Linked DNA regions of Homo sapiens: region 2 is linked to region 1. The links come from fine-mapping of genetic effects on gene expression. Tissue or cell type: whole blood. Region 1 holds a variant in brackets; the other region holds the start of a gene. All regions are shown on one strand. Distances are between the middles of the regions.

Region 1 (2,753 bases):
ACTTTAAGCAAGTTCATAAACACAAAGAATCAATTGACACTGCAGCCTTGGAGCTCAGCACCGAATTTGATCTGATTACATGCTCTCAGTAGTGAAAAATGCTGCTTTGTAATCAATGATAAATGTTTCATTTTTCATACTCAATTCAATAAAATTATCATGTCTTACCATGCAACCTCAGTTAGGATAAATTAGTGCCATATCATTTCACATGCTATCTCTACATAACCAAGCTTTTGACAACGATCTTAATGACTTTCTTAGCTTAAGAATGCTACAAGATTGAAGTTACACAACTTAGGATGATAAAGACAATCATTACCTCTTTCTCAGCTTCTCGCTCTTCTTCAGACACTGCAGCATTAGAAATTAAAATTGGGGTCCACCTCAGACTGTCTGGATCAAGTTCATTGGCTCTGGAACAGGTTTTCAGCTTTTCCATGTGGCTCAATATCAACTTTTCCCGTCTAATGATGACAAATCTGTAATGTGATAAGGCAGAACAAGATGTAATCACAAGCTGAAATTTCACTTCAGCTTCACATACGGACATATGCTAGCACTAATGTTATCTGCGTTAGGAAAAATCAGAAAGCACCTCAATGAGAGGGTACAGAACACTGGAATCCAACCAGTAAAAAAGTGTCATTTCATGTGTTATTTTTAGGAGAAAAGGTTTGATAATACTGTTAGGGAACCTCAGTCTTTAACTGGAATGAATGCACCTATCTCCAGGGACCCTTTCTGGTGTGGGATGCCTGAGCCACGGAGCTGCCCAGGGTCCCAGGACTCACCTGCCATCTCTCTTGTCGATCATGTGGAGGTGCTGCAGAGTGGTGGCAATGTCATGTGGGCACATGCCCGTCGCTCTGCTAATTGCCTTGATGCTGATGTGCCTCTCATGGTGGTGGTAGAGATACTCCAAGATGACGCTCTTCCAATATGCCAGGTAGGAGAGACGGCCCAGATCGGAGAGAGGCTTTTCAGGAGACCCTGCTTGGCCTTCTCTTCTAGAAAGCAAATAGCCTAGGGCAGAAAAAATAAATGGGCATTCCTCACTGTGGCATTCCCAGAGCTTAGAA[C/A]AGGAGCCACTAGAAATAATATGAGTAGTGACAAGGTAAAAACATCACAACAGAGAAGTGCATTCGCTTTAGGAATGTAGCCTCTTCCCAGTTATAGTGATTTGATCTCCGTGAAGTTTACGCTCCTGAATCTTTGACAGTGGCACTCTAAGTCAATTCACGCAGCTAGCAGCAGCATTCCAAACACATATTGTGACATATTTAACAAAGACTAAAAGCTATGGTTGAAGACATTACTCCTGCTAAGTCTCAACATCTAAGTCTCCCACAGCTTTAGATTCTTTCAAAAACGAAATGTCAGGCACTTACTCAGAAATCCTGTCGAGGGACCACCCCCAACATTAATGGGCAAGTTGTTTTCCACAGGAAGGACCTAATGACCCTTTGACAGCTGGGTCTTAATAAAAAGAGAAGGACCTCTGTTGACTCAGAGTCTATATTGCTTGTTACATTTAACTAGCAGGTTGATCTGAAGCTTTGTTTTAGGACTAATAAAAGAATGTCTTTCAAGTCAACTGCTGCAACTCCCATCAGCTCCACTAGCTCCATTTTCACCTCTTTCATAGAAATTAATTTACAATCCAATCCCAGAATATTGCTCCTACAAATTAAGACAAAACAAAACAAACTCCTTAAAACAACCTATTGCATGTATGCTCAGAAAATCCCCCAGCATCTTAAGCTTTTGAACGCATTTTACAGCATTACTGTGAAGGTTCCTTGGCAAAGGAACTTTAAAAATGGAAAAAAAAAAAAAAAAAGAAACCAGCCCTTTAAATCCACTTGAAGGTAATGAATGAAAGCTGGCGGCTGTCTCAGTAATTAAGAGCCACTTATGGGGTAGAAAAGAAATGCTATAAGCTAATGATGTCTACCTTGCTCTAATTATCTATTTCAACAGCCTCACCTTCATGAACTTCCTAAGTTTAAACAAACATCAACCACATACAGTAGGTGGCAGCAATGACAAAATCATACGGCTCCATAAACCACCCAAATCTTCAGCATTTTTCTTCTTTATCTACATTTCCAAAATGGCTGCATTCTCAAGAATTTTCTCAATTTTAGGGTTATTTTTTGTTAAAGAAGAAATCAATGCCTCTGATGCATTTTCCTGCATCTCAAAATCACTGCAAATACAGTAATGCAGAAATACAAAACAAGAATCCAGCCTGAACCCTCGAAGGGTATAATCACAGCATTTTGCATTTTGATGGCTTTAATCTGAATGCCATTATGAAGAATAGGCGTAAATTTAACTTCAGGTTTTGCTAAGGTCTTTTGACTTATTTGTCTCTTTAACCCATGTTTAAGTGCAAAGTATTTGACTGAATGCAAACAAGCACCGCAACATTTTACAGTGAAACCACTGTCTACATGTAATTTGGCAGCAGATTGGGGCTTTCAATAGCAGTGTGTCAGGAATGCTAACACAGTGATGGCCACTGTGCCGAAGCCAGCCCATATTGTGTCCTGTCAACACGAAGAAGAGCTCTCTACGTCTCTGTGTTGCCAGAGTATGAAGGGAGCCCACACCTCAGAATACAGATAATTGGCACATCCGTCACCTGCCTCCAAAGTGCTTGGCACATGCTGAGAAACGTACCCAGGAGGCTGGGGGGTCCCAGCTTTGTACTCCTGGGGGGGTGAGAACCATAGAGCCGTGGATAT
Region 2 (2,605 bases), 220 kb before region 1:
TGTAATCCCAGCACTTTGGAAGGACGAGGCAAACAGATCACTTGAGGCCAGGAGTCTGACACCAGCCTGGCCAAAATAGCAAAACCCGTCTCTACAAAAAATACAAAAATTAGTTGGGTGTAGGGGTGCGTGCCTGTAGTCCCAGCTACTCCAGAGTCTGAGGCAGGAGAATCGCTTGAATCAGGAGGTGGAGGTTGCAGTGAGACCAGATTGTGCCACTGCACTCCAGCCTGGGTGACAGAGCGAGACTCAGTCTCAAAAAAAAAAAAAAAAAGGACAGCGTCAGCGTCTTTCACCTCCTCCGGAGTTTGGCGCATGGTAGGGGTTCAATCAGTGTTCTCTGGACAGTGTTTCAACAGAACAACCTTGCAAGGGAGCTTCACCGGCTTTCTCCCCAAGATGTCTTCATTCCAACCTACCAACATAACAGCAGCTGCCACTTATGTATTGTGCTACTGTGTGCGAAGCTGTGGGATCTGGTGCCTTTTATGGTAAGATTGTAGGCCTCATTTTACAGGAAGGAAACTGAGGCTCAGAGAGACTGGCAGGACCAAGATTAGACACTCGTATCCATCTGGCCCCCAAAAGCAGGATTTTAACAGCTAAGAATATGGTCTCAGTTCCACAGGCCCACCCCAGGGCTCCTGAACCCCAATTCGAGGCTGCATGCCCTCAAACCAGTTCCCTCACTCCTTCAGCCTGATGCTTTGGGGCATCTTGTCCAGGAGGCCTTCCCCCTTTAATCTCTATCTCTTGTACTTGTGACTATCTTGTAACTTACACTGGCGCCCTCCATACACAATTCACATATGCCCCCAAGGGGCCTCAGAATAAATGGTGGCGAGGAGAAAAAAGCATTGGCAGGAGGGGAATGGAGGCAGGCACCTGGACTGCGGGCACAGGCGGGAAAATTCAGATCTAGGCGCTTGGCCTGCTCCCCGCAGGGGCGCAGTTCCCGGCGCGGCCACCAGATCGCGCCCGGCTCTCTCGGGCGGGGCTTGCAGTAAGGCTGTGTGGCCGCCAGATGATGCCCGAGACCGCGGCTCCGCGGGTAGTGCCCCGACAAGGTGGAGCCCGGCGGGCCCGCGAGTCCGAGACCTGTCCCAGGAGCTCCAGCTCACGTGACCTGTCACTGCCTCCCGCCGCCTCCTGCCCGCGCCATGACCCAGCCGGTGCCCCGGCTCTCCGTGCCCGCCGCGCTGGCCCTGGGCTCAGCCGCACTGGGCGCCGCCTTCGCCACTGGCCTCTTCCTGGGTGAGCAGGACCTGGTCCCGGCGGGCGGGTGGGCGGGCGCAGAGTAGGGCGCGGCGTGGCTCAGGTTAATCCAACACCCTCTCCCCGTCAGGGAGGCGGTGCCCCCCATGGCGAGGCCGGCGAGAGCAGTGCCTGCTTCCCCCCGAGGACAGCCGCCTGTGGCAGTATCTTCTGAGCCGCTCCATGCGGGAGCACCCGGCGCTGCGAAGCCTGAGGCTGGTCAGCAGGGCGCGGGACGGAAACGGGCGTCCCTCTCGACCCCTGCGGGTCCCACGTGGCTGTGTGACCTTGGGCTGGGCCCTGGCCCTCCCTGGGCTTCCGGCTTCCCTGGGCCGGGTGCGGTGGGCGTTCCGAAGGGCCAGTCCCCCAGGCCACGCCCAGAACCGCGCCCCTGGGGCTTGGGACCCCCAGGGCGAAGGTGGGTGACCTGCATGGCTGGTGCCACCCTCTCCTTTCACGCAGCTGACCCTGGAGCAGCCGCAGGGGGATTCTATGATGACCTGCGAGCAGGCCCAGCTCTTGGCCAACCTGGCGCGGCTCATCCAGGCCAAGAAGGCGCTGGACCTGGGTAGGGGCACGCGGCCGGGATCCCGGAGGGCCGAGGTTTCCGGGCCGACCCCCACTCTGGGCTGAGCCCGTCTGTGTCCTGGTCCCAGGCACCTTCACGGGCTACTCCGCCCTGGCCCTGGCCCTGGCGCTGCCCGCGGACGGGCGCGTGGTGACCTGCGAGGTGGACGCGCAGCCCCCGGAGCTGGGACGGCCCCTGTGGAGGCAGGTGAGCGCCCGCGCCTAGCTCTGCAGCCCCAGGCGGGGGCGCAACGGCTGACCCGCTCCCTCCGCAGGCCGAGGCGGAGCACAAGATCGACCTCCGGCTGAAGCCCGCCTTGGAGACCCTGGGTGAGCACCGAAGCGGGAAGGGCTTTGAAGCCATTCATTGCAAACGAGGCTGCTGTGTGGCCGAGCTGTGACTGGGCCTGCCGGGCAGGTTAAGGGCAGGGCCGGTTGTCACAGAGCCCGGGCCGGCCTGGGAGGGGCCTCAGGGCCGCCGGGGCCGCGGACTCAGCCGCACCTGCCCTCCCTCCCCCCGCAAGACGAGCTGCTGGCGGCGGGCGAGGCCGGCACCTTCGACGTGGCCGTGGTGGATGCGGACAAGGAGAACTGCTCCGCCTACTACGAGCGCTGCCTGCAGCTGCTGCGACCCGGAGGCATCCTCGCCGTCCTCAGAGTAAGGGATCCACTGCGGGGGAGGAGAAAGCACCCTGTCGGGCCGGGTCCCCATCTTTTCCCTTGACTCCTCTTATACCCCAAAGCCCCACCCAGTCCAGTCACGTAGGCTACACCCCCTCCGGGG

The links. PIP is the estimated chance that this variant, and not a neighbour inherited with it, causes the effect.
Region 2: COMTD1 starts here. The variant in region 1 is fine-mapped to the expression of COMTD1 in whole blood (TOPMed, PIP above 0.99).

Annotation. Positions count from the first base shown.
Region 1 is chr10:75,018,855-75,021,607 of GRCh38, reverse strand. KAT6B (lysine acetyltransferase 6B) reads right to left here. Exons shown (of 18, transcript NM_012330.4): 14 at 795-1,026; 15 at 323-482. Among named protein-coding and RNA genes, the nearest start is that of SNORD172, 1.5 kb to the left of the region's middle. The variant C/A (reference allele first, on the strand shown) is at 1,083.
Region 2 is chr10:75,234,484-75,237,088 of GRCh38, reverse strand. COMTD1 (catechol-O-methyltransferase domain containing 1) reads left to right here and starts at 1,132. Exons shown (of 7, transcript NM_144589.4): 1 at 1,132-1,254; 2 at 1,346-1,473; 3 at 1,717-1,822; 4 at 1,911-2,029; 5 at 2,097-2,151; 6 at 2,346-2,479. The coding sequence starts at 1,161. RefSeq lists silencers at 884-1,178, 1,214-1,353, 1,514-1,593, 1,724-2,013, 2,174-2,403.